Linked DNA regions of Homo sapiens. The protein of the gene in region 6 purifies or fractionates together with the protein of the main gene of each other region. This does not show direct contact. Each region holds a gene or a part of one and is shown on either strand. Other genes may lie near its edges. The genes, in order: MTFR2, PPP1R12A, GNG2, MTFR1, MFSD8 and GABBR1.

What was found.
Region 1: the proteins of GABBR1 (region 6) and MTFR2 purify together in Homo sapiens (affinity purification with mass spectrometry; one large-scale study listed by BioGRID and IntAct). This does not show direct contact.
Region 2: the proteins of GABBR1 (region 6) and PPP1R12A purify together in Homo sapiens (affinity purification with mass spectrometry; one large-scale study listed by BioGRID and IntAct). This does not show direct contact.
Region 3: the proteins of GABBR1 (region 6) and GNG2 purify together in Homo sapiens (affinity purification with a luminescence readout, with the first as the bait; one study listed by BioGRID). This does not show direct contact.
Region 4: the proteins of GABBR1 (region 6) and MTFR1 purify together in Homo sapiens (affinity purification with mass spectrometry; one large-scale study listed by BioGRID and IntAct). This does not show direct contact.
Region 5: the proteins of GABBR1 (region 6) and MFSD8 purify together in Homo sapiens (affinity purification with mass spectrometry; one large-scale study listed by BioGRID and IntAct). This does not show direct contact.

Annotation. Positions count from the first base shown.
Region 1 is NC_000006.12:136,232,581-136,237,756, forward strand, and holds part of MTFR2 (mitochondrial fission regulator 2), read right to left. Parts: intron 920-5,176; coding exon 745-919; intron 1-744. UniProt on the Homo sapiens protein: May play a role in mitochondrial aerobic respiration essentially in the testis. Can also promote mitochondrial fission.
Region 2 is NC_000012.12:79,791,138-79,796,313, forward strand, and holds part of PPP1R12A (protein phosphatase 1 regulatory subunit 12A), read right to left. Parts: intron 4,623-5,176; coding exon 4,501-4,622; intron 2,792-4,500; coding exon 2,726-2,791; intron 1-2,725. UniProt on the Homo sapiens protein: Key regulator of protein phosphatase 1C (PPP1C). Mediates binding to myosin. As part of the PPP1C complex, involved in dephosphorylation of PLK1. Capable of inhibiting HIF1AN-dependent suppression of HIF1A activity.
Region 3 is NC_000014.9:51,960,845-51,966,020, reverse strand, and holds part of GNG2 (guanine nucleotide-binding protein G(I)/G(S)/G(O) subunit gamma-2 precursor), read right to left. Parts: intron 1-5,176. UniProt on the Homo sapiens protein: Guanine nucleotide-binding proteins (G proteins) are involved as a modulator or transducer in various transmembrane signaling systems.
Region 4 is NC_000008.11:65,647,734-65,651,233, reverse strand, and holds part of MTFR1 (mitochondrial fission regulator 1 isoform 1 precursor), read right to left. Parts: intron 2,009-3,500; exon of another isoform or gene 1,695-2,008; intron 1-1,694. UniProt on the Homo sapiens protein: May play a role in mitochondrial aerobic respiration. May also regulate mitochondrial organization and fission.
Region 5 is NC_000004.12:127,922,940-127,928,115, reverse strand, and holds part of MFSD8 (major facilitator superfamily domain-containing protein 8), read left to right. Parts: intron 1-5,176. UniProt on the Homo sapiens protein: Outward-rectifying chloride channel involved in endolysosomal chloride homeostasis, membrane fusion and function. Conducts chloride currents up to hundreds of picoamperes.
Region 6 is NC_000006.12:29,611,707-29,616,882, forward strand, and holds part of GABBR1 (gamma-aminobutyric acid type B receptor subunit 1 isoform a precursor), read right to left. Parts: intron 1,780-5,176; coding exon 1,537-1,779; intron 909-1,536; coding exon 845-908; intron 1-844.

The DNA.
Region 1 (5,176 bases), about 110 Mb from region 6:
GTTTTCCAGTCTCTTCCTCTGCTGACGTCTGTCCTTCCTCAGTGCTATCTAGCTGACTTTAGATGCTGTTCCTCTTCCACACTCCTGTCATTCTCAAGGCTTATTCTTATGTGTTAATACTACCTCAACTAAATTAAGACATGTGAAAACCACCCCAAAATTAGAATTACTTCTAAATTTAAGAAAAGAGACTTCAAGTAAGGAGTAATCTTAAGGCTCAAATGCTTAAAATCCAGTGTTTGTCATCCTAGGCATCCAGTAAGTGCTGTCACTAAAGATAACTATAATCCCATTTGCTTTTTTACATGCAGAGTTAACATTATATTCAACAAAATATCCAAAGTCTGTATATTTGACAGAGAAAAATCTTGGCGTATTCACATTCCATATGGTTAGGGGGAATCTATTGCACCATTCTTCCCTGGCCCTCTCAAACTGTCAGACACCCAGTTCATACTGCAGATGGCAACATCAAATTGGCACCTAAGATAAGTCATTATAAACATATGCACAAATATTTTTCAAATTAAGTATTTTATTTCAAAAGAGCTCATGATAGGCTAAAAGTGAAAATGAGCATATAAAATTAACAACAAAAAAACCCCAGAAACATTAGCAGCATCAATAAACAATTATATAGCCCATTCTGCACAATTACTTCAAGAGAACTTGAACACAAAGCTGTAACATAAACAACACATCTGAGAAAAACTGAAAAATTAATTTTACATTAGTGTAGCTTACCCTTGAAGTTTCTGGACTAGAAAATGGGGAAGATTCCCAAGATCTATTCTCTTTCTCAAAAGAATCATCTTCTTGAAATGCAAATTTCTGTTTAAGTGCATGAGATATTAAAGAAACTGGATCCCAATGTGAATTCTGTCTTTTCCTCTTATGAATGGGTCTACCGCCAGGTGACCTATTTTTTAAAAAAAAAAATTGAATTTATTAAAACTTGGATGTAATTTTAGCTCCTTGTTGACAAACATGGCAGGAATACAAGCATATCTTACAATTTAATTAGTCTTCAAGAGATTGAAAATAATCTAATCTTCAAGAAATTTTCGCAATGAAATAAGGAAGGCACAATGAATGAAGAATCAGAAAACCAAGAACCCATGTGACTTGAGACTCTGCCATAACCTTGTTATGACCTGAGATTTGTCAGATGTCACTATGCTGAAGATCTTTATTATGGTAATTTTCTAATTTCCTAATGGGTAGGAAAATTCAAATAAATAAGAACTTTTAAAAGGACGAGAGTTCATGCCAAAAAAAAAAAAATTACGCAAATTGTTCATTTGTTTGGTTGTTCATTCATTTAATCTTCATTGAATGCCCACTACCACATCCGACTCCATTTTATGCTTTGGGAGTATTCTGCTCCCAATTCTTACAGCAAGATTATCATCAATATACAAGTAAGATCATTTGGCTGGTAATAAGAGCTGTGAATAAAACAAAACAGAGGCTGGGCACGGTAGCTCATGCCTATAATCCCAGCACTTTAGGAGGCCAAGGTGGGAGGACTGCCTGAGCCCAGGAGTTCGAGAGCAGCTTGGGTAACATAGCGAGACCCCATCTCTAGAAAAAATTTAAAAATTAGCCAGGCAACTACTTGGGAGGTTAAGGCAGGAGGATCACTTGAGCCAAGGAGGTCAAGCCTGCAGCAAGTCATGGCACCACTACACTCCAGCCTGGGTGACAGAGCAACACCCTGTCTCAAAAAAAAAAAAAAAAAACTAAATTAAAAAATAAAAAATAGGGAAATGTAATAGTGATTAGGGACAGAAGCACTTTAGATATGATCAGAAAAAAAGCCTCTTTAAGGAAGCAACATCCTCTTTAAGAAAATGACAAGGGGTCAGTTTTAGTGTAAACATCTGGGGCTGCATCAGGAAGGAGCTTGGCATGTGTGAGAAACGGAAAAAAGAAAGCAACTGCAGCTGGAGTGCAGTGGGCAAACATGGGGCATAGGAGAGGAGCTCAGCGAGAGAAGTGAGGGCTGGCTCCTGGAGGGGCCTACGGACACAGCAAGGGCTCTAGAACTGATTCAAGCACAACGGAAACCCACAGAAGAGTCTGAAGCAGGAGAATGGCCTGATCTGACTTCTGGTCACTATCTGCAGAATAAATAAGGAGGCAAGAATGAAAACAGATCACTGAGGAGGCTGCTGCGGAAGTCTAAGCTAGATAAGAATGGGCTTAGCCTGGGGAGTTGGCAGTGGAGGTCAAGAGGTCCACAGAATTGAGCTATGTGCTGATGGGAACGGTGGGAGATAGAATGGAAAATAAAGATGAAGGATGATTCCTAGATATTTGTTTTTGTTTTTTTGAGACGGAGTCTCGCTTTGTCACCAAGGCTGGAGTATAGTGGCTCACTGCAACCTCCGCCTCCCGGGCTCAAACAATTAATTCTCCTGCCTCAGCCTCCTAGTAGCTGGGATTACAGGTGTGCGCCATCATGTCAGGGTAATTTTTGTATTTTTAGTAGAGACTGGGTTTCACCATGTTGGCCAGGCTGGTCTCGAACTCCTGACCTCGAGTGATCTGCCCACCTCAGCCTCTCAAAGTGCTGTGTTTACTGGTGTGAGCCACCGCACCTGGCCTGATTCCTAGATCTTAAGCAACCGGGTGATCGTGTTGCCATTTGCTAATATGCAAAAGACGTGGGAAAGAACAGGTTTTCAAGGTGGCGGAAAAGAACAGGTAGGAAGGAAAAGTCCTGTTTTGGACCTGTGAAACGAGATACCTGTGAGACAGGCAAATAAAGATGTCAAGTAGGCATTTCAGTATGTGCATCTGGGCTCAAGAGGAGAGGTCAGGGCTAGAAAAATAAACGTTTGAGTCATAAGCATACAGCTGGTATTTAGAGTCATAGGACTAGGTGAGCTCACCAAAGGAAACAGCATGGACAGAGAAGAGAGGGGGCTGAGGTCTGAACCAGGTATTTCAACATTTAAAGACCAGGCCCAGGGGGAAGAGTTTAAGGAATAAGAAGGAATAGCTGATGAGGTCAGAGGAAACCTGGGGGTATGCTTTCCCAGAAACCAAGTAAAGAAAGTGCTCCAGGCTAGGCGCAGTGGCTCATGCCTGTAATCCCAGCACTTTGGGAGGCCAAGGTGGTCGGATCATGCGGTCAAGAGATCGAGACCATCCTGGCCAATACGGTGAAACCCTATCTCTACTAAAAATACAAAAATTAGCTGAGCATGGTGGCACATGCCTGTAGTCCCAGCTACTCGGGAGGCCGAGGCAGGAGAATCACTTGAATCCAGGAGGCAGAGGTTGCAGTGAGCCGAGATCACGCCACTGCACTCCAGCCTGGCAACAGAGCGAGACTCCGTCTCAAAAAAAAAAAGAAAGTGCTCCAAGGAGGTGGGGACCATAGGCTGTATCAAATGCTGCCAAGAGGTCAACTAAGACGAGCAATGCTAAGAGACCAGTGGATTTAGCCACATGGAGTCACTGGTGAAGCAGTTTTCAATGGAGTTTTCATGGGTAGAAGGCAGCAGCGATAGACAGAAACAAATTATAGACGACTTCAAGAATTCATATCAGAAAGGGGAGCAGAACAACAGAACAACGGCTGAGAGTACATGTGTTTTGAAGGTGGGAAGTACTCAGGTGTGAGGAGAAGGATGAAGTATAGAAGGAAGACTCAGTGATGCAGAAGGGCTCATTTTAAGTGAAATCCTTGTGAAGAGGAAAGAGAAGGGAAACCAGTAACCAAAGGAAGAGCCTGGCCATGAATGATGACACTTGGCTCCCAACAGCAAGATGGAAGGCAGAGAATCTGCACGGGGAATCTGTAGGTGTAAAGAGGTGAGAGAGCTCATCTGATTCCTCAGCAACGTACAAAACAAAGTTAGCTGTAGAGGCAACTCAGGAGAGAATAGGGGGACAGGAGGCAGAGGCTACTGGCCTTTTAGTTGTTTTTCCAGTGATGGTAACAGTCACAGAGTTGCCACTTGATACTAAGCCCGACAACACAAGTACAAGATCTAGTTGGGACCAAGCATGCACCTACAGCCATGAGATTCTTCTCAACAAGCTGCCTCATGCTCTTCCTGTGGTTACTGGTTTCCCTTCTCTTTCCTCTTCACAAGGATTTCACTTAAAATGAGCCCTTCTGCATCGTTGCAAGGATCAAACTCACAACCTCATTAAAAACAGAACTGACTTATCTGTCCCAGGACTATCATACAGAAAATATATCTATTTTCTCACCGAAAACCTCACTGAGGGATTTCCAAGTAAGCATGGCAAATCCCTTGTGAAATCCTACTAAAATGACAGTAAAGAAATGAAAAAGATCTATATATCCACAAGGACAAAGAGATTAGAAGGGGAGACAGGAGATAAGAATTGCAACCAGATGCCGGAAGCTGGAAAGCTGATGAAAGTGAGAGCATGGGGCGTGGGCGCCCTGCTGAACACAGGGCGTGTGCTAAATAAGACACTTCTCTCTTGCTCCTCTTTCCCCACTCAGCTCTCCAATGACCTGACTTGCACCCGCTGTGTAATCCCCATCCCTCCTGACCACAAGGGAGAATGAAGAACTTTCTAAGGAAAATCCTGTAGCCCAAAAGAAAAGACATACAGCTCTGGGGTGTGGCCAACAAAATGGTCCTCTCCCTAATCACTAAACTGTGAAGCTCCCAAGTTGATAAGCCCACCTCACACAAAGAACATGCGATCAGCTTTTCCTTGCCTCATTTTAAATAAGAATCACCAGATGCTTACCCAAGGCTACAAAACTAAAGATAGAGATCAAAGCTAAAAGGAAAAAAGAAACTCACAAAAAATACAGTAATTCAAGAACAGAGGAAACTTAAAACAAACCTACACTTTTAATACTGTCAGTGGGATAAGACCAACAAAACCAAAAAGATTTTAACAAGAAGCATTTGAAGAAAAAGAAACAGCTCTTAAAAATTAAAAATGTGGGCCAGGTGTGGTGGCTCACACCTGTAATCCCAGCACTTTGGGAGGCCGAGGCCGGCAGATCACAAGGTCAGGAGTTCATGACCAGCCTGGCCAACATGGTGAAACCCTGTCTCTACTAAAACTACAAAAATTAGCTGGGCATGGTGGCACGTGCCTGTAATCCCAGCTACTCGGGAGGCTGCAGCAAAAGAATTGCTTGAACCAAGACCCAGGAGGCAGAAGCTGC
Region 2 (5,176 bases), on a different chromosome or scaffold from region 6:
TCAATTTTCAAGATAATCAAATTCAGTAAAATGGCCATTCCTGAACTAAAATGTCTACATATCAAACAAAAATAATACATCTTACCTTATAGTCTGCACTTACATTCACTGATTTAAATTTTAACAATAAAAAGTCTAGTGAGAAATCACTCAAATTCCATTATCTTTAAAAATCATGGTGTTATCACTGATTATTATTACTATTTTTGAGATGAGGTGTCGCTCTGTTTCCCAGGCTGGAGTGCAGTGATATGATCACAGCTCACTACAGCCTCGACCTCCTGGCCCAACTGATCCTTCTGCCTCAGCCTCCTAGTTAGCTGGGACTACAGGCATGCACCATCACATCCGACTAATTTCTTAAATTTACTGTGGAGACAGTGTCTCCCTATGTTGCCCAGGTTGGTCTTGAACTCCTGGGCTCAAGCAGTCCTCCCACCTCAGCCTCCCAGAGTGTTGGGCTTATAGGTGTGAGCCACCATGCCCGGCCTAGCATTATTTAAAAACTTTTAAGAATTGTGGTAAAAACCACGTAATATAAAATTTACCATGTAAACCATTTTTTAGAGTATATAGTTCAGTATTTTTAATTATATTCATATTGTTGTGCAAAAGATCGCTAGAACTTTTTCATCTTGCAAAAATAAAACTCTATATCCAATGAACAACTTCCTTTGTCCTCCTCTTCCTAGCTCTGGCAACAAAGGTTCTACTTTCTGTTTCTATGATACCCAAATAAAATAAGTGGAATCACACAGTTCTTGTCTTTTTGTAACTTGCTTATTTCATTTAGCATAACGCCCTTGTTCCCCAAATTTTAAGATTAATTTTCCAAAGTAAAAATATCTTTTTAAAGATAAAAAAGATTAAAATATATAGAAAGATATTCAGAAATATCTTTCTGACTATGGTATTGTAAAGTTCACATAATGGTATACAAAGTTCCTGTGTAATTCCTCATCCCTCCATTCTCTAGATAACCACTGTTATCTAACCAACCTTTTCTGGACACATAATATCTATGTGAATATAGAAAATATTGATCTATGCACATACATTGCACCTTATTTATTTATCTACATCCATTCTTCCTTTTTCTCATGGTATAGCAGTTACTAGGTTTAGGTGAGATGACACATGGCCCATGTTGGTAGCAAAATGGCTGCAACAGTTCAGTGATAGGCCCTGTCTATCCTAAGCCAACTATAATCCTATCCCTATGAGGTACATCAGCCTGAGGATGAAGCTGACACAAAGGACTGCAGAATATAACTGGAGTACAATACATTTTCTTTGTTTAATCCAGTTTGACTTAGGTTTCATATTGTTATTTATATTTGTTATATTTATTTATATGTTATTCATTACTTTAAAAGAACTCTAAACAATCTAAAGTAAACAAAAACTACTTAAATTGAAAATAAAAAAACTTTTCGTCTTAGAAACAATGTTCCTCTTCATCTTAACGTATCTCATATGATTTTAACAGTAAAACTTAAAATACAGTATACATCAATATGCTTCAAAATTACAACTTTAAAAGCCAGACAATCTCCCTTCCACTCCAGCCTGGTGGGGGCTGGAGTCTGCGTGATAAGGCAATGAGAGGTGTCAGATGGGGATGGTTTACTAATTTCCTCCCCTCTTGTTTAATAAAGAAGGGACATAGGTAAATTGGGGAGTTCTGATAACTGATAACCAAAAAATTTAGGTAACAGTTAAAGCTTTAGGCCTGCAAATAATTTAACCTCAGAACCAATTCACTCCTCATTGTCTGGCCACCTAAAGATAAAATAAAATTGTGGGGTCAAAATAGGCAAACTTGGCCCTAAAATAATGTTCACCGTCACCTAGCACAGGTAACCAACTTTTGTTCACATTACTGTAGATCCTTGCTGACTAAAAAGAAATGTAATAGCTCTATTAAGGAACTTCAACTCAAAATGAAGAAAATAATATTAATATGACCAGAATGCTATTTCATGCTAGACAGTGCCAGGTTTAGACTCGTGTTGTTCAGCTCTATCCTCATATGAACAGAAATATTTTGAATATTTTTTAGCTTTCTACACAGCCAAACAATCAGGAAGGGGGTCGGGGGAACTTTCAACCCTTGCTGGCTGTGCAGCCTTGTCATTCAAACTTGCTTTAGGTCCTTCATCAGTACTGAGAGGAAAAAAATGTCTTTTAGATTCTCAACATAAAAATCTGTTGGAGACTCTAAATTTCTAAATATATGTAAAAGAAAGTTAAAAGATGCCTATATTCTCCAGAACATAACTTTGAAATAAAATCTACAGAAATAAAATCTGAGCCTACTACTTCTGGATTTCCACTACTTCTGATTATCCTTTAGATATTTTCCTTTGGCCAAGGGTACTATTTCTTTTTTTGCTTTTTCTTTTAACTCCGAAGGTTAAATGACATACATTAAATTACATCCACTTAGAGTGTACAATTTGGTGAGTTTTGGCAGTTCTGTATATCCATAAAACCACTGCTAGGATCAAGACTCAGAACATTTTCATCACCTCCAAAACATTATTTTGTGACCCTTCCCAGTCCTTTTAATCCTGATCCCCAGGCAAACACTGATATTGCATACCCAGCATGTAGGTAGAGTATGCAATAACTGCTTTGCATGAATAAACATAATAAAACGCAATTTAAAAGTAATTATTAAAAAATATGAATACTTCTCAATACAAAAAGTAATGGTATTTACCTGAGTTTCTTTCTTATTGGATCCCTCTTCTGTGTCTGATTGTTGTTCTTGTTCATTTTCATCACTCTAAAAACAGATTGCCAATTTATATTTTAGGAAATTTTAGTAATAATTTCAAAATTTATTTTTTAAAATTATTTTTGGGAGTCCTTCTCTCTCAGAATATACATTGAGACATTTGTAGATAGAATGAGATGTCTAGGATTTTCTTCTAAATAATATGGGAGTTGGGAGATGGAGTGGGAATTTAGCTGAAAAAATGAATACTGGGGGTAGGGCTCATTATACTATTATGTTACTTCTATAAAGTATATGTTTAACTTTTCTATATTAAAAATCAAAAGAAAAATAGAAAACTATTTTCCGATTTCCCCATCTGTTCTTCCCTTCTTTGTCATTTATGTATGATTTTCCCTCTCTTTTTAAACTTTTTTAAATAGACATATGCACTCTTGATTCATCAAGTTGAATATATATTTTGTCCACAGCATGGACAATGCGAAGATACTAAAACTCTTCAACTCCATTTAATACTTTCCCATATTTTTGTGCTATTGTTTTCATATGCCTTAGCTCTTTATATATTTTAAACTGCAAATGACAATGTTATTTGTTTCATGTAATTAAGTAATTAGTAATTAAGTAAAATTAAAATGGACTGAAACACTGCAATTAAAAAAAAGTTCAGAAAAAAGTTGACCTAAATATGTTGTTTATTAAAAAAAACACAAATAAATTGAAAATAACAGAAAAGATATATTATACAAAGATAATCAAAAGGAAGCTTTTCAAAAAAGCAGAATTTAAGGTCAGATATAATATTAGAGATAAAGAGGAACATATAGTGAGAGATGGGTCAGTTTAACAGGAAGACAGATGATTCCATGTTCTTTCAGTGAAAGAATAGTTAGAAATTTTCTTTAAAAAATATTTTTATAACAATAGAAGTAAATGTACTGCTACATAAAATAGCATAGATATATCTTATAAACATAACAGTTATAAAATTTATAGTTCTAGTCATATGCTCTTCAAAAACAGGCATAGTTAACTACGGTGTTAGAAATCAGGATACTAGCTGACTTTGAAAATGAGGATGATAGGGATTGAGAGGGAGAACATGGGGGCAATCTACACTGCTGTTTTTATTCATCATTCTGAGTGGTGATTACATAGATATGCTCCTATTGTGCTAATCCATTAAGCTATACATGTATGAATTATGTTTCTAAACATGCCATACTTCAATAAAAGGTTTATTTTTTAGAAAATGGAAACAAAATCAATGAATAGCAATGTCAGGCCTACAATCAAGGACCAGGAAAACACTAATTTTTACAAGACTGTTGTAATTTGATAAGCAAAGCACTGTGTCTATTTAGCATGCTTTGAGATGGAAGTAATCTGTAATGTAGATCTTATAATGATATTTATGAAAATGAAATTAAATAGACTCCTTAGAAATTCTTAAAAGATGTTTTTACAAGAAGCAGTTTACCTATTATAAAATAATCAATACATGCACTCTGAGCTTCAGACATTATTATTTCTATTCCATAATTAGGTCAGAACCACTCCTTTTAAGTAGTACCAACAATCTAAGTAGTTAACTATCCTTAAAAATAATTTTTCTTATTTAACAACTCAGAAAACACAGTGATGATTTAAGGAATATGAAATCTAAGGCATATAAGAAATTATTAGTATGTATTTTTGGACACATTAAGAATACTATCAAGAATACTATCAAATAATGTATTTTAATAGGTTCTCACATCTTGTGTCCAAAATGAAACTCCTGTAGATCTTCTTTTCTCTCTTGGTCGTCGTCGTTCTCTGATTGATTTAGGTTGTGATTTATCTTCTCCTTCTTTCTCCTCTTCTCTTTTTTCTCCCTCTGTTAAGGATTGCAATGAACCACAATATAGCAATATATCTTGACAATATTTTGCAAGGTAATTGTAAAAACAATGGGTAAAATGGGCCAGGGGACTATCTAGGGGGATGGAAGGTAGGCAGCTGCTACTACTTAGCTCCAGCCAATTGTTGGTATGTGAGAATTCAGATCCAGTGTTGCCAGGTCAGCCAACTTTTCAAGAAATGGCAAAAATCTGAAGTTTGAAGTGAGTATCTCTAATTTTAAATGTTGGTTCAACATTTTTACAAACACAATGCAGGCCTCACACATAGAAGTTTAAAGAACTGAAACATCTCAATGATCAACATGAGAAAATATATAGCTGGAAATTGGGAAAAAACTTTATTTTCTGCTGTTTATTCTACATTACTACTGATATTATCATGACTAATACTGTAAGATTTAGGCTTTAAAATATGAAATGCCTATATTTAGTACTTATATCTGATTTAAAGTAGGAATTACTCAGAATTTAAATAGAAAGTTTATATAAAATAATAGGAAATGGTAATGAGTATCAATATGCCAATATA
Region 3 (5,176 bases), on a different chromosome or scaffold from region 6:
GCCAGGCTGGTCTTGAACTCCTGGACTCAAGTGATCCACCTGTCTCGGCTTCCGAAAGTGCTGGGATTACAGACGTGAGCCACTGTGCCCGGCCCTCCTTCACTTTTGTGCTCCGATATCTCATTGCCCCACCCTGGTCCCAGCCCTGGTAACAAGGGTTAAATGAAAAAATCCCTGTAAATCATTTAGTGTCTGGCACATAGCAAGCTTTCCACACAGGCTAGCCATTATTATCATTTTGTAGTCGTGACTCTCTGCTTCAGGAATTGTGCTAGGGATGCCTAAAACCATGTCAATTTCCCTTTTTAAGCAGATGCAGCAGGAGATATATCTATGTATACACACACTATATAGAACATATTTTTATACTTCATATATATTAAAATTTATACCTGTGACTTTAACCAAGCATTGTGCCCTTTAGTGATATTTCACTGGGAGGTCGTCACTGATTCTGGCGATGCTGTCATTTCTTACAACATATTTGTAGCTGCTTGTTATGAGTTCCCTGTAGTACCTTCCTTCAACCATCTTCACCAGAGGAAATTTTTACTACATTAGAGCGTGGATTTAGTTTCAGGAAATAAACTAAAAGTCATCTATAGCTACATCTGGGGACTAGGTAAATGATCAACCTGGGGAATGCCATTTGGGGTCAAATTTTTACATAAAATAACACATTTCCACATGAAAGCAACACCACTGTACTACTACGAACGCCTGTCAAGTAACTACTGAAAGGATATCAAAGCAACTACTGAAAGGATAATCTAATTTAAGATTTGGGTGAATTATATTATTACTAAAGATAGTCACTGCCCCTTCCTACAAGTGGGACATACATGCCCACATGATGACATCAGACTTGCCCAGTGACATAAGCTTGCTCTGGCCAGAGAGATGTGAGCAGAATTTATGTGGATCAATTATGGGCAGAAACTTTAGGAGCCAATGCACAGTTTGCCATGTCCCTTCCTCTATACCACTTCGTCCGACTGAAATAATTTATGAGGAACCCTCTTAATTGATGCAGAGGTTTTAACAAATGGCATAGTGGCAATATCCTTGATTTGTTTCTTGTCCCAGGGCTGAGTTGATTAAAGCTTTGTCACTCCTGCCTCAGCCTCCTGAGTAGCTGGGACTACAGGTGCATGCCACCATGCCTAGCTGGTTTTTCAAAAATGTTCTTGCTATTTTGCCCATGCTGGTCTTGAACGCCTGACCTCAAGCCATCCTCCCGCCTCACCTTCCGGAGTCCTGGGATTACAGGTGTAAGTCACTGTGCCTGGCCTTTTTTACTTAAGGCTACTTCAACTTTATGATTTACTGGTTGGGTAGAGAAATCAGTTTCCTCTTCTCATCCCATAAACCGTTGAATTTTTGGGGTCTCTGTTCCCTTTGCCACAGAACAGATAGAAGCAACATTCTGGACAGAGGCTGCTCCATCTGCCAGCATCCCTGATGAAGGTGACATGGTGTGGAGTGGCAGCTGATTTATGATTGACATATGGTAGGAGTGAGAAGTGTGACTGTGCTATTGCAAACCCCTAAGAATGAAGGGTAGGGCACCTTCTGTTACTACCACAACATCTAGCCAACCCTAATTGACACAAAGAGGTACAGGTATTGGTTTGTGTATTTGTTTCCTCTGGCTGTCTTGAACAAGTCCTCACAAACTGGGTAACTTAAAACAACAGAAATTTATTCTGTTAGAGACTAGCAGTTTGAAATCAAGGCATCAGCTTGGTTGGTCCCTTCTGGAGGGTCTGAGCGAGAATCTGTTCCATGCTTCTCTCCTAGTGCCTGGTGGTTGCTGGCAATCTTTGGTATCCCTTGGCTTATAGACATATCACTCCAATCTCTGTCTCTATTTTCACATGGAATTCTCTCCTGAGTGTCTGTGTCTTTATGTGGCATTCTCCTCTCTGTGTGACCAAATTTCCCATCTCACCAGTTAGAGTTACCCTAATCCAGTATGATTCCTCTTAATTTGATTACATCTACAAATACCCTATTTCCAAGTAAGGCCACATTCTAAGATTCCAGGTGGGCATAAATTTTAGGGGACACTAGTCAACCCAATACATGATATGTATGTAAAAATCAGTCTCACTTTTTAATAGACATTACAGTACTTACAAAAATATTTTTATTTTATCCTTATTTTGTTCCAGACATTGAGTTAAATTTCCTCTTTTGATCTTCACAGTAATCCTGAGGTAAGAATTATTATCCTCTTTTTATAGATGAAAAATTGAGGCTCAGCAGATTATATAAGTTGTTCAATATCATAGAGCAAAGCACACAGCAGAAAAAGAACTTGAACTCGAATGTGTTGCCATTAAGCCACAGCCATCTGCATATAAACTACTCAAATGTGGGCTTTGTTCCAAAGGTTGAAATTGAAATTCTTTATGAAATGCTTCTATGACAAAATGAAAGGAAACAGCCTGTTTATGTCTTAGCTCTCCCACATGAAAACAAAGGACAGACTTTCAGACTGAATTGAGATCACTTTTTTTCTTCATTCTTTCTTCTTGTTTGAGCGATAGTCATTGTTACACCAAACAGGAGCTTAGCTGTTAGGCAGTGGAGACAGTAAATCAGTGATATCTAAAACTCATTTGTTACGAGGAGAAGCAGCACCGTTCATCCCTACCCGTTTGCAACACTCACATACAACTATGTAGCATGAATATTCAAAATCTTTTTATGATACAGGAAGTACTATACTAGGAAAATTTAATAACTTAGAGCTGCTCATATCTTTATATTTGAACATTTGATTCTGAATGGTTTCCTTCTTAAAATATATTATGTGTTTTATCTTGTTTCCTCAACAAGACTGCAATCTCCTGTGGGCAATGCTCCAACAGTGTCAGAATCCCAGCAGTAATTAGAATAATTGCTAATATTTATCAGCCCTTGCTATGTGTCAGAACTGTGCTAACCACTTTACATACGGTATCTTATTTAATCCTTACAACAACATTATGGGTCACAAGCTATTATCATTCTCATCTTAAATATGTGAAGTGGAGGCTTCATTAAGTGTTTGCCCCAGGTCCCACAGCTCCTGAGCTACTGAGTTGTGAGTCTCAATGTCCCTGACTTAATCTTCATGAACATTCCTCCTTTCTAACCTGTGGCTGTCTTCCTTGTCCTGTGCCTTATAATGAGTCACAGCAATCGTGTGCCTAGCAGATCTTTCTGCTTTCTGACAATCCCTGCTAACATTTTGCACACAGCTTCTTCTACATTCGTATGCCTACTTCTTCCATGAAGATTTCCCCAATAACTCCAGAAAATCTCTCCCTTTTCTGTCCTGTTGATTCTTCCTCCAAAGATATCTCAAATTTGGCTCCCTTCCTGTTATATCTATTGCAGCTACCCCAGTTCATACTGCAGTCTTCTCTCTTTGTGATTACTAAAATAACTTTGTAAATAAAGGCAATTAATTTGGATTACCCCAGGGTTCCACAGATCGAATTCGGGGGGTGGTATGTGAACTTCAAATAATACAAAAAATTTACATCTTTATTTTTCACTAACCTCAAATGGAAATTTAACATTTCCTCTCATTATAAATATAGACAACACACTGCAGTAGCCCTAGCAGTACATGTGACTTGGCCACTGATAGATACCAGATACTTTCAATCACATTATATTCATTGCAGACACCTCAACACTGCATTTCTGTTCATCCACCTTATGATTGTAGACCTATTAGATCTTACATAATCAGTTAACAAAGGAGTACCTATGTATAACTACATCACATATATTTTTAAAAATTGATATTTTAAATAATATTATTTAAAATGTTTTACAAAAATATTCTAATGACCCTCATGTCAATATAATTAGTTTCTTTTGTAATTTAAAAACATGATTCTAAGAAGGAGACCATAGGCTTGAGCAGACAGACAAATGAGTCAAGAGCACAAAAATGTTTAATTATCTCAGTTTTAAATGATTTCCTGTGTTCATAACTATGCAGGAGTAGTATTCTCCATACTGTAGCTAGAAAGATATTTTTAAAATACAAGTGGATTCCTATCATTCTCCTATTTAAAACCTTCAATAACTTCTCATTGTAATTTGTAGAAAACCAAAACTTTGTAAAACAGCCTGTGGGTATTGCATGTTTTGGGCCTCCCCCTCTCTCCAATTTCATGTTGTAGCATTCTTCCCTCTCAAATATCTCCTTTACTTTTTGAAAGCTCCAAGTTCTTTTTTGCCTCAGAGTGTCACATATTCAGTATCCTAGAATATTGTTCTCTTCATCTCCTCAATGGGTTGGCTTATCATCTTCCTTCAGAAGTCAGCAGAAATACCACCTCCTTGCAGAACCTTCACTGATCGCCTCATCCACAGTGACTTTCCTGATTATTTTCTCTCAGAGTACTTTCTCACATTCTTCTCTTTCACAGAAATTATAAATTGCTTTCACAGTTTATAATTACGGACATCGTTTGTTTATTTGCCATTTAATATTTGCCTTTCCCTTTAGGCTCTGGGCTCCACGAAGGCAGGAACCACACCTGTGTTATTTACTACCGTATAATCAGTGCCTGACACATATTCAACACTCATAGTAATTGCTGAAGGAGTTCTCAAACATAATCTTCTTCGACAGATATTTCATGCAACGAATATTTACTGAGCATCAAATATGCCAGGTGTAGTCTGGATACTTGCAATAATCAGGGAACAAAATATACAAAGATGCTTGTCCCTGTAGAGTTTATACAGCATTCTATACTTCCAATTTTGGCTATGATGGAGTAATAAGGGCCAACTAAACTCTCCTGCCTTAAATTAAAAACTGGGCAGAATATATGAAGAAATAATTTTTAACTTTTAGACAATAGGCAGCACAGAGGAGTGATCCCTGAGAGAAGGGAGATAAGATAAATTCTACAGTTGCCCCAGCTTACTGCCTGCCACTGCACAGGGAGGGAGTACCCAGACAGAGTTCAGCAATCTCCCTGAGTTGAGGAGAGAATAGCAGAGAAGAAAGAATTACACTAGGGGAGAGAAAGCTCTTAAGGCCTCTGGAGGATTCATCTTGAGCCTTTGGCTGAATACTGATTGGCACATGCATAGGAGAAAACCACTTGAGGCTATGCAAAGAATATCAGGAAGGAGCAAGTAAAACAATCCTGGAGAT
Region 4 (3,500 bases), on a different chromosome or scaffold from region 6:
GGAAAAAAAATTTGCAAACTATTCACCTGACAAGGGATTAACAACCAGAATACATAAGTAGCTCAAACAATTCAATAGGAAAGAAATCGAATAATCTAATTCAAAAATGGGCAAAAGATCTGAATGGACATTTCTCAAAAGAAGACTTACAAATGGCAAACGGGTATATTAAAAAAGTGCTCCAATCATCAGAGAAATGCAAATCAAAACTACAATGACATACCATCTCACCCAGTTAAAATGGCTTATATTCAAAAGACAGCCAAGAATGAATGCTGGCAAGGATGTGGAGAAAAGGGATCCTCATATCCTGTTGGTGGGACTGTAAATTTGCTCAACCACTATAGAGAACGGTTTGGAGGTTCCTCAAAAAACTAGAAATAGAGCTACCATATGACTCGTCAATCTCACTGGTAGGTATAGACCCAAAAGAAAGGAAATCAGTATATTGAAGCAATATCTGCCGTGCCATGTTTGTTGCAGAGCTATTCACAACAGCCAGGATTTGGAAGCAACTAAATAAATGTCTATCAACAGACAAATGGATAAAGAAAATGTGATACATATACATAGCGGAGTACTATTCAGCCATTAAAAAGAATGGGATCCTGTCATTTGAAAATAACATGAATGGAACTGGAGGATATTATGTTAAGCGAAATAAGCCAGGCAGAAAAAGACAAACTTCACATATTCTCACTTATTACGGGACCTAAAAATTAAAACAACTTAACTCATGCAGATAAGAGTATAAGGATGGTTGGCTAGGCGCGGTGGCTCACACCTGTAATCCCAGCACTTTGGGAGGCCAAGGAAGGTGGATCACAAGGTCAGGAGTTCAACATCAGCCTGGGCCAAAATGGTGAAACCCCGTCTCTACTAAAAATACAAAAAATTAGCTGGGCATGATGGTGGGCGCCTGTAATCCCAGCTACTCGGGAGGCTGAGGCAGAGAATTGCTTGAACCTGGGAGGCGGAGGTTGCAGAGTAAAACTCTGTCTCAAAAAAAAAAAAAAAAAAAAAGAGTATAAGGATGGTTACCAGCAGTCTGGCCAACATGGCATAGCCCTGTCTCTACTAAAAATACAAAAATTAGGCTGGGCATGGTGGCTCACAGCTGTAATCCCAGCAGTTTGAGAGGCTGAGGTAGGCAGATCACCTGAGGTCGGGAGTTCGAGACCAGTCTGGCCAACGTAGTGAAACCCCATCTCTACTAAAAATACAAAAATCAGCCGGGCGTGGTGGTGGGCGCCTGTAACCCCAGCTACTTGGGAGGCTGAGGCAGGAGAATCGCTTGAACCCAGGAGGCAGAGGTGGCAGTGAGCCGAGATCACGCCACTGCACTGCAGCCTTGGTGACAGAGCGAGACTCCATCTCAAAAACAAAACAAAAAAACCCAAAAGGATGGTTATCAGGTGCTGCAAAGGACAGTGTGGGGGGGTGGGGGGAGATGGAGTAGGGATGGTTAATGCATACAAAAATACAGTTAGAATGAATAAGACCTAGAATTTGATAGCATCACAGGATGACTATAGCCAACAATAATTTATTGTACATTAAAAAATAACTAAAAGTATAATTGGATTGTTTGTAACACAAAGAAAGGATAAATACTTGAGGTGGATACCCCATTTACCATTTACCCTGATGTGATTATTACACATTATATGCCTGTATTAAAATATCTCACGTACCCCATAAATACATATACCTATTATGTACCCACAAAAATAAAAATAAAGATAAAATGGGCCAGGCGCGGTGGCTCACACCTGTAATCCCAGCACTTTGGGAGGCTGAGGCGGTGGATCACCTGAGGTCAGGAGTTCAAGACAGCCTGGCCAACATGGTGAAACGCTGTCTCTCCTAAAAATACAAAAAATTAGCAGGTCGTGGTGGCGGGGTCCTGTAATCCCAGCTACTCGGGAGGCTGAAGCTGGAGAATCACTTGAACCTGGGAGGTGGAGGTTGCAGTGAGCCGAGATCGTGTGTGCCATTGCACTCCAGCCTGGGAAACAAGAGCAAAACTCCATCTCAAAAAAAAAAAGAAATATAAAATGATACAGTATTTCCATATAACCTATACACATCCTCCCATATACTTGAAGTCATCTGTAGATTACTTGTAATACCTAATATAATGGAAACAGTTGTCTACTGTATTGTTTTATTTGTATTGTTTCTTATTGTCATATTGTTATTTTATCATTGTTTTTTCAAATATTTTCTATCTGCGGATACAGAACCTATGAATCCAGAAGGCCGACTATATATCAAATCGGCCATTTCAAAAAGTAACCAAGGGAGGGAGGTGAAAAAAATTAATAAAATATCTTAGAGCTATGATAGCATCACTGCACTCCAACCTGGCAACAAAGAAAGACTCTGTCCCTAAAAAAAAATCTTAAATGTTTAAAAAGATCTTAGTTATACTGCTTTATATATATATTTATATGTACATTACAATGTATGTTTTTTCAATCATGGAAACTTAACTTTCCTGTTTAACTTGTCTGACTGTTTACATTTTAACCACAACCAACTCACACCAGTCAACTCCAGTTGTACAAATTATACGTTAAATGATATCTCCCGGTGGAGTCGGAGCAGAAAAAAAATTTTTTAATGATATCAACTATTTACACAAAACAATTTATTTGGTAAAAATGACTTGCAGATTGACTGGTTGACAATAACTTCAGTATCATAAATGAAGGAATTGTTTCAGAGGTGGAATGTTCTGGTCCCTAAAACAGCAGCCCTGAGTGCTCTCCCAGCTGACATATTTTTCATTTTACTAGCCACTCTGAAGATTTTGAGAAGAGCCATGTAATTGAGAAACCTATTTGCAACTTAATGTAACAAATGGTTTATATCCCTAATGAATATAAAGTGCTTGCAAATAAAGAAACAAATGGGCCAGGCATGGTGACTCACGCCTGTAATCCCAGCACTTTGGGAGGCCGAGGTGGGCGAATCACGAGGTCAGGAGATCGAGACCATACTGGCTAACACAGTGAAACCCCGTCTCTACTAAAAAATAGAAAAAATTAGCCGGGCTTAGTGGCGGGCGCCTGTAGTCCCAGCTACTCAGGAGGCTGAGGCAGGAGAATGGAATGGCGTGAACCCGGGAGGCAGAGCTTGCAGTGAGCCAAGATCGCACCACTGCACTCCAGTCTGGGTGACAGAGCGAGACTCCATCTCAAAACAAACAAACAAACAAACAAACAAACAAATGATCAAAAGCCCAATGGAAAAATAGGCATAGTACGTCAGTAGGCATTTTACAAGTAGAAATACAAACAGAAAATAAAATGTGAAAAATGTCCAACAGTAATCAAATAAATGTTAACTAAAACTGTTATCACCTTTTCCCCATCAAGTGGTTATCTTTAAAGGGTAGGATTATAGTGTCATTTTTTTTTTTGTTGCTTATCTAAATTGTGTAATTTCTATCAATAGTATCTAATAAATATATAAAAGAATAGTTCAGTAGCTGG
Region 5 (5,176 bases), on a different chromosome or scaffold from region 6:
GATCACACCACTGCCCTCCAGCCTGGGTGACAGAGTGAGATTTCATCTCAAAATAAATAAATAAATACAAATAAATAAAAGAATAATTTTGGCCAGGTATGGTGACTCACATCTGCAACCCCAGCAATTTAGGAGGCTAAAATGGGAGGATCATTTCAGCCCAGGAGTTAGTTTGAGACCAGCCTGGGCAACATAGTGAGATCTTATCTCACTATGATATAATGAGATCCCTATTTCTTCACAGACACACACACAAACACAATTAGCTGGGTATGATGGAGCACGCCTGTAGTCCCAGCTACTTGGGAGGTTGAGGCGAGAGGATTGCTTGAACCCAGGAGTTTGAGGCTGCAGTGAGCTGTGATTGTACCACTACACTCCAGTCTGGGTGACAGAGCAAGACCCATCTCTTAAAAAAAGAATCATTTTGTAAAAGTACAACTGTAAGGAACATATTTTTAGGGAAATGCTTGTGTAAAATTAAGTTCAGTCATATAGTCTATGGTGGAACATTAGTTGATGAATTTAGACAGTTCTATTTAAGTATTCCTCAAATACAGATACTCTTTAACTTGCAATGGGGCTACATCCTGATAAACTGATCATCATAAGTTGAAAATAGCACTAAGTTGAAAATACAGGCTGGGTGCAGTGGCTCACGCCTGCAATCCCAGCACTTTGGGAGGCCAAGGCGGGCAGATCACCTGAGGTCAGAAGTTCGAGACCAGCCCGGCCAACGTGGTGAAACCCCGTCGTAACTAAATACACAAAAATTAGCTGGGTGTGGTGGCCAGTGCCTGTAATCACAGCTGCTCCACAGGTGGAGGCACAAGAATCGCTTGAACCCAGGAGGTGGAGGTTGCAATGAGCCATTGCATTCCAGCCTGGATGACAAGAGTGAAATTCCATCTCAAAAAAAGCGAAAAACAAAAAAAAAAAAACATTTAATACACCTAACCTACGGAGCATTGTAGCTTAGCTTAGCCTACTTTAAACACACTCCAACACTCACATTAGTTTTCAGTTTGGCTAAATCATCTAACACAAAGCGTATTTTATAATAAAGTGTTGGATATCTCATGTAATTTGCCAAATACAGTATACTGTAGATTATAGTACTGGATGTTTACCTTTGTGATCATGTGGCTGATTAGGAGCTGTGGCTCTCTGCTGCTGTCCAGCATCATGAAACAGTATCATACCACAGATCACTAGTCTGGAAAAATATCAAAATTCAAAATTTGAAGTGTGGTTTCTACTGAATGAGTATCACTTTCCTACTGTTGTAAAGCTGAACAGTTCTAAGTTGGACACTCATAAGTCAGAGACTGTATGTACTTTAATAAGGTTCTAAAATTAATCAACAAATGTTAAGTCAGTGTATCAGGTTCAGTGCTATGGGGGTACTATGAGAATTCTTGTCCTTATGGAGCCAAGTAGAGGGATCAAGATATAAGATAGACATATATTTATATTCAAAGTTAATAGGAAGTACATTACATCTTGCTACAGAAGTAGAGCAGTGCTGCTGATACACATTCTTATAGAATGTCCAATACCATCCCCTCAAAGCACGTGTATTCCAGTAGGGGGAAAGCCAATAAACACAAATGTGAAGTCAGATAGTGGTAAGTACTACAAAGAAGAATAGAAGAGAAAAGAATAAGGAGTGACAAGGGCAGGGCTGGGAAGTGGGGAAATGTTGTATTTGATACACTGCTCAAGGAAGGTATATATGAGGAAGTTACATTTAAGCTGAGACCTTAGTGAAGTCAGCAAAGAGCCATGCAATGGCCTGGATGGTCTCGATCTCCTGACCTCAGATGATCCGTCCTCCTCAGCCTCCCAAAGTACTGGGATTACAGGCGTGAGCCACCACACCCAGCCTTTATTATACTTTGAGTTCTGGAATATATGTGCAGGTTTGTTACATAGGTATAAATGTACTATGGTGGTTTGCTGCACCCATCAACCCATCATCTACATTAGGTATTTCTCCTAATGCTATCCCTCCTCTAGCCCCCCACCCCGCAATAGGCCCCTGTGTGTGATGTTCCCCTCCCTGTGTCCATGTATTCTCTTTGTTCAACTCCCACTTATGAGTGAGAACATGTGGCGTTTGTTTTTCTGTTCCTGTGTTTGCTGAGAATGATGGTTTCCAGCTTCATCCATGTTACTGTAAAAGACATGAACTCATCCTTTTTTATGGCTGCATAGTTTTCCATGGTGTATATGTGCTACATTTTCTTTATCCAGTCTGTCATTGATGGGCATTTGGGTTGGTTCCAAGTCTTTACTATTGTGAATAGTGCTGTAATAAACATACATGTGCATGTGTCTTCATAGTAGAATGATTTATAATCCTTTGGGTATATACCCAGTAATGGGATTGCTGGGTCAAATGGTATTTCTGGTTCTAGATCCTTGGGGAATTGCCACACTGTCTTCCACAATGGTTGAACTAATTTACACTCCCACCAACAGTGTAAAGGTGTTCCTATTTCTCCACATCCTCTCCAGCATCTGTTGTTCCCCGACTTTTTAATGATTGCCACTCTAACTGGTGTGAGATGGTATCTCATTGTGATTTTGATATGCATTTCTCTAATGACCAGTGATGATGAGCTTTTTTTCATATGTTTGTTGGTTGCATAAATGTCTTCTTTTGAGAAGCATCTGTTCATATCCTTTGCCCACTTTTTGATGGGGTTGTTTTTTTCTTGTAAATTTGTTTAAGTTCCTTGTAGATTCTGGATATTAGACCTTTATCAGATGGATAGATTGCAAAAATTTTCTCCCATTCTGTAGGTTGCTTGTTCACTCTGATGATAGTTTATTTTGCTGTGCAGAAGCTCTTTAGTTTAATTAGATCCCATTTATCAATTTTGGTTTTTGTTGCCATTGCTTTTGGTGTTTTAGACATGAAGTCCTTGCCCATGCCTATGTCCTGAATGGTAATGCCTAGGTTTTCTTCTAGGGTTTTTATGGTTTTAGGTCCTATGTTTAAGTCTTTGATCTTTCTTGAATTAATTTTTGTATAAGGTATAAAGAAGGGGCCCAGTCTCAGTTTTCTGCGTATGGCTAGCCAGTTTTCCCAACACCATTTATTAAATAGGGAATCCTTTCCCTATTGCTTGTTTTTGTCAGGTTTGTCAAAGATCAGATGGTTGTAGATGTGTGGTGTTATTTCTGAGGCCTCTATTCTGTTCCATTGGTCTATATATCTGTTTTGGTACAAGAATCATGCTGTTTTGGTTACTGTAGCCTTGTAGTGTAGTTTGAAGTCAGGTATTGTGATGTCTTCAGCTTTGTTCTTTTTGCTTAGGATTGTCTTGGCTATATGGGCTCTGTTTTGGTTCCGTATGAAATTTAAAGTAGTTTTTTTCTAATTCTGTGAAGAAAGTCAATGGTAGCTTGATGGGGATAGCATTGAATCCATAAGTTACTTTGGACAGTATGGCCATTTTCACAATATTGATTCTTACTGTCCATGAGCATGGAATGTTTTTCCATTTGTTTGTGTCCTCTCTTATGTCCTTTAGCAGTGGTTTGTAGTTCTCCTTGAAGAGGTCCTTCACATCCCTTGTAAGTTGTATTCCTAGATATTTTATTCTCTTTGCAGCAATTGTGAATGGCAGTTCACTCTTGATTTGGCTCTCTGTTTGTCTGTTATTGGTGTATAGGAATGCTTGTGATTTTTGCACATTGATTTTTTATCCTGAGACTTTGCTGAAGTTGCTTGTCGCTTAAGGAGATTTTGGGCACCACTGGTCCCACAGAAATACAAACTACCGTCAGAGAATACCACAGTATTCTCTAATACTATAAACACCTCTATGCAAATAAAATAGAAAATCTAGAAGACACGGATAAATTCCTGGACACATACACCCTCCCAAGACTAAACCAGGAAGAAGTCGAATCCCTGAATTGACCAATAATAAGTTCTGAGATTGAGGCAGTAATTAATAGCCTACCAACCAAAAAAAGCCCAGGACCAGATAGATTCACAGCCGAATTCTACTGGAGGTACAAAGTTTCCATTCCTTCTGAAACTCCATTCCTTCTGTAACTATGCCAAACCGTAGAAGAAGAGGGACTCCTCCCTAACTCATTTTATGAGGCCAGAATCATCCTGATACCAAAACCTGGCAGAGACACAACAAAAAAAATTTAAGGCCAATATCCCTGATGAACATCGATGCGAAAATCCTCAATAAAATACTGGCAAACCCAGGCCAGGTGCGGTGGCTCACGCCTGTAATCTCAGCACTTTGGGAGGCTGAAGTGGGTGGATCACGAGGTCAGAGGTCGAGACCATCCTGGCCAACACAGTGAAACCCCATCTCTACTAAAAATACAAAAAAAATTAGCCAGGCGTGGTGGCAGGCACCTGTAGTCCCAGCTACTCAGGAGACTGAGGCAGGAGAATGGCATGAACCCGGGAGGCGGAGTTTGCAGTGAGCCAAGTTCACGCCACTGCATACCAGCCTGGGCGACAGAGCAAGACTCTGTCTCAAATAATAATAATAATAATAATAATAATAATAATAATAATAATAAATAAAAATAAAAAATAAAATACTGGAAAACTGAATTCAGCAGCACATCAAAAAGCTTATCCACCACGATCAAATCTGCTTCATCCCTGAGATGCAAGGCTGGTTCAACATACACAAATCAATAAATGTAATCCATCTCATAAACAGAACCAATGACAAAAACCACATGATTATCTCAATATATGCAGAAAAGGCCTTTGATAAAATTCAACACTCCTTCATGCTAACAACACTCAATAAACTGATATTGATGGAACGTATCTCAAAATAATAAGCGCTATTTATGACAAACCCACAGCCAGTATCATACTGAATGGGCAAAAACTGGAAGCATTCCCTTTGAAAACCGGCACAAGACAAGGATACCCTCTCTCACCTCTCCTGTTCAACATAGTGTTGGAAGTTCTGGCCAGGGCAATCAGGCAAGAGAAAGAAATAAAGGGTATTCAATTAGGAAATGAGAAAGTCAAATTGCCTCTGTTTGCAGATGACATGATTGCTGTATTTCTTAAAAACTAGTACTTGCATCTAGAAGCTTGATGAAATTTGGGTTCAATTTTTTGGCAAGAATACTTTATAGGTGGGAATATGTGCTTATATCAGAAGAAATATAA
Region 6 (5,176 bases):
CTGAGAGCCGAGTGGAGCAGAAAAATTAACTCCTAGAAGTTCTGCAAATACCTGTGTGCTAAGTTTCAAGAAAATACAATCTACAAAAGCCAAGCTATACACATTGAAGCTTTACACAGCAAGGAAATTTGGCAGATTCCCTTAAAAAAAAAATAGCGGTTCTCCTAGATTCAGCTTTCTTGAGTCTAACTGACAGGTCATCAACCTCTCAACCCAAGCCACTCAAGGGGAAATTCCTGAAATTAATGGAAGCCACTGGGAAAGAGAGTAGCTGTTTTTAATTTGCATGTCTCTTTTCTTTTCTTTTTTCTTTGAGACAGAGTCTTACTCTATCACCCAGGCTGGAGTGCAGTGGCGTGATCTCAGCTCACTGCAACCTCTGCCTCCTGGGTTCAAGTGATTCTCCTGCCTCAGCCTCCCAAGTAGCTGGGACTACAGGCACCTGCCACCACACCCAGCTAATTTTTTTTTTTTTTTTTGTATTTTTGGTAGAGACAGGTTTCACCATGTTGGTCTGGCTGGTCTCAAACTCCTGACCATGATCATGATCTGCCTGCCTTGGCCTCCCAAAAGTGCTGGGATTACAGGGGTGAGCCACCACACCCAGCCTGCACACCTCTTTTCAAGAGCAAAACCAGTGCAACTCAAAGACATCAATCTTCTTGTAGTTAAGCTTATTATTATTATTATTTACAAGCTTGATGAACAGAGTTAAAAGAGAAGGGCAGAAGTTGGGAGGTGCCAGGGCAATCTTGTGATGTCTCTGGCATTCTTCCCCAGGGGGCATCCCAGCCCAGCCCCAGCCTAGCCCCCATGTCCGGTCCCCTCCTGCCCCTGTACTAACCCTGAAGCTGCTCGATAAGCGTCCATGCCATCCGAGAGCCGCTGGCATCAAACACCACATGGCCCTGAGGGAAGGAACATGTGGAGCAAGGCAAAGGAGACAAAAGCAAGAGTGAAAGAGAACATCAGGGACTCTTTAAATCCTTCTGTTTTTGATGTAATTGAGCCTCTGAATGAATGCTATTTATGGCATTTGCCTGCATATAGGACATACCCCAGATGCCCATACCCTAGATTTTAGAAACATTATTCTTTGGAGAAGGAGCTTCACTTATGAGATTTGAATGGGAAAAAATCCCCAGACAGAACACCAGCAGGCTTCTGGTTGTGTGGCCTAAGCAAGTCAGCAAATCTCTCTGGAAACTAATCTTTTCATTTTAAAAGGAATAAGAAGATGACCTTTCAGACTGTTTTGTCTTTCAAAATCCTATAGTTCTCATCTGACTCATGAATACTTGGTCTAGTTTGAAAAGAAATGAGGGGAGGGGTTTAAAAAAATGGAATACATCATTTTTTTTCCTCTAGTCTTTGATGGGTTCTTCTAATTTGAAGGTCCCTACTTCTCTGGTCGGAGACTGATTCTGCAAAGAAGTAACTGAGAAAAACAGAGAATGCATGTTTGTAGAAGGTGCCTCTTGGGAGTCTCTCTCAAGATTGGGAAGACAGGGGAGTATGAAGGAAGTTTTAACTCACAGAGACACCCTCAAAGGACGAAGAGTTCATTGCCCGGTAGATTTGGTCGGTAATGGTCTGGTTGTTGTAGTTGAAGTCCTCCAGGCGCACACCAGAACGGCCGCCTCCTCCAGATGTCTTGTTCAGGGCCAGTGCCAAGGCCCAGATGGCATCATAGGCCAGCGGTGCCTCCTGGAAGCCTCCTGTCTCCTCAGGGTGTCTTTTCAGTCGCTTGGTTAGTTTCTCCACAAATTCCTGGGATGTCTTGGGAGGAAAAAATCATGAGGAAAGAACTGAAATGTGTGTGGGTGTGGGGGAAGGGGTGCAATCCAATTCTGACTCAATCACTTCTACTTGAATGGATGGTTTGTGTTACTGTTGTCAGATTGGACACATGTACATTCAAAATCTTTAACTATACCCATGTGTCTGCCTTAGATCGGAAGCTACTAGACTAGAGTAGGTATTAGCTGTGTCTGATGGTGTTAGTGTGTACAGTTGCTAGCTCAGAACTGCAAACAGAGAATTTTGACAAACACTCTGGATAATTAGTGGCAAAGGATGGAAGGTAGAGCAGAGTAAAGGAGGAGACATGGATATTCCAATGAAGAGCTGTGACACTGATGTTCTCTGATCCTTCTGACTTTCTTCATAGAGTTAACCCAGGATCTAACAGCTCCTACAATTCCAAAAGATTCTAGAAAAGGTGATAGCAGTCTTCTCACTCTGCTTGCCAGCCAGGAGGATATTTCTTCAGCATGCTAACTTCTTGCCATTCTTGTGTGCTTTTGGTTCACTGCCTCTTAGAAGGCTTTCAGAAGAATGAAAACTACAGAAATACCCTTCACATTTTTGAAGTCCATTATCAATCCTACCCACACCCCTCCCAACACTCAACCTTCTTTTTCCATGAAAGCTAAAAAGAATGATAGTTCCTTTAACTCTCTCATGAACTGGGTCAAGAGACCTGACTTCATATACCTTGCAGTAACCTTGTTTGGCTAAATAACTGTAAGTAAATTACTTAACCTCTTGGAACTGCATTCTACATACTGGAGAAAATCACATCATTCCTTCCTTACCTCACAGAAACCATACAAGGAAAAGCTTAGCAACTACTTCTTGGGAAACCACAAGTAATACACAGGGGACCATACAAATAATTGTTTGGGTTTGGAATGTTTTAACACAAACGGTAATGAAAGAATAAATAGATGAATGAAGAATAAATAAATAACTTTGTTCCTCATGCCTTGCTCACTTTTCTCTCCAACTTTCTAGAGAGATAGAGGAGTGAGATACGCAAAGGGCACAGGCAAGGTACAGCAGTTGCTACTACACTGGGCTTTGAAGGAGCCTGGGCTTTGAAGATGCAATGGGCCTAGGTTCTACCCTTGAGGACAAGACCAAATCCCATGCCCTCTCTTAATCATCAGCATCTAGCACTGTGCCCAACCATAATGAAGTAACAATAAATGTCCATTGGATTAGGCCAGTGAAAATACTCTGTAAAGTATTTAATAGTAGATACGTCTCATTATACATTTGTCCAAACCCATAGAATATATAACACCAAGGGTGAACTCTAATGTAAACTATGGACTTTGGGTGATTATGATGTATCAATGTAGGTTCATCAGTTGTAACAAATGTACCACTCTGGCGGAGGATGTCGATAATGTAGAAGGCTATGCATGTGGGAAGCATATGGGAAGTTTCTGTACCTTCATCTCAATTCTGCTGGGAAACTAAAACTGCTCAAAAAAAAAAAAAAAAAAAAAAGGCCAGGCACAGTGGCTCACACCTTTAATCCTAGCACTTTGGGAGGCCAAGGTAAGCAGACTGCCTGAGCTCAGGAGTTAAAGACCAGCTGGGCAACATGGTGAAACCCCATCTCTACTAAAATACAAAAAATTAGCTGGGCATGGTGGTGTGCACTTGCAGTCCCAACTACTCAGGAGGCTGAGGGCTGAGGTGAGAAAATCACTTCAACCCAGGAGGTGGAGGTTACAGTGAGCTGAGATGACGCCACTACACTCCAGCCTGGGCGACAGAGCAAGACTCCGTCTCAAAAAAAAAAAAAAAAGGCATTATAAAAAACAAGTCAGGCTGGGCACAGTGGCTCACACTTGTAATCCCAGCTCTTTGGGAGGCCAAGGAGGGTGGATCACCTGAGGTCAGGAATTCCAGACAGCCTGGCCAACCTGGTGAAACCCGTCTCTACTAAAAATACAAAAATTAGCTGGGTGTGTTGGTGGGCTCCCGTAATCCCAGCTACTTGGGAAGCTGAGGTAGAAGAATCGCTTGAACTCAAGAGGCAGAGGTTGCAGTGAGCAGAGATCACGCCACTGCACTTCAGCCTGGGCGATGGAGTGAGACTCTGCCTTTAAAAAAAAAAAAAAAAAAAGGCAGCCAGGCACAGGGGGCTCACGCCTGTAATCCCAACATTTTCATTTTCAGAGGCCAACGCAGGAGGATTCCTTGAGCCCAGGAGTTTGAGACAAGACTGGGCAAAACAGAGAGGACCCAACTCTACAAAATTTTTTTAAAAATTAGCCAGACTTGGCCTGGGCACGGAGGCTCACATCTGTAATCTCAGGACTTTGGGAGGTCAAGGCGGGCAGATCATGAGGTCAGGAGTTCAAGACCAGCCTGGCCAACATGGTGAAACCCTGTCTCTATGAAAAATACAAAAATTAGCTGGGCACGGTGGCTCACGCCTGTAATCCCAGCACTTTGGGAGGCTGAGGCGGGTGGATCACCTGAGGTCCGGAGTTCGAGACCAGCCTGAGCAACATGGAGAAACCCTGTCTCTACTAAAAATACAAAATTAGCCGGGTGTGGTGGCGCATGCCTGTAATCCCAGCTACTCCGGAGGCTGAGGCAGGAGAATGGCTTGAACCTGGGAGGCGGAGGTTGCTGTGAGCCAAGATCGCGCCATTGCACTCAAGCCTGGGCAATAAGAATGAAACTCTGTCTCAAAAAAAAAAATACAAAAATTAGCTGGGTGTGATGGTGGGCTCCCGTAATCCCAGCTACTCAGGAGGCTGAGGCAGGAGAATCGGAGAATCGCTTGAACCCAGGAGGCGGAGGTTGCAGTGAGCCAAGATCATGCCATTGCACTCCAGCCTGGGCAACAGAGCAAGACTCCATCTCAGAAAAAAAAAAAATTAGCCGGACTTGGCTTGGAGCAGTGGCTCACGCCTGTAATCCCAGCACTTCAGGAGGCTGAGGAGGGTGAATCATGAGGTTAGGTGTTCGAGACCAACCTGACCAACATGGTGAAACCCCATGTCCACTAAAAATACAAAAACTTATCTGGGCATGGTGGCACGCACCTGTAATCCCAGCTATTCAGAAGGCTGAGGCAGGAGAATCACTGGAACCCAGGAGGCAGAGGTTGCAGTGAGCCGAGATCACACCATTGTGCTCCAGCCTAGGCAACAGAGCAAGACTCTATCTCGAGAAAAAAAAAAAAAGTTAGCCAGACTTGGTGGCATATGTCTGTGATCCCAGCTTACTTGGGAGGGGCTGAGGTGGGTGGATGACTTGAGCCCAGGAGGTCAAGGCTGCAGCGATTGTACCACTGCACTCCTGCCTGGGCAGCAGAGGGATACTCTACCTCAAAAAAAAAAAAAAAAAAAGGCTGGGCGCGGTGGCT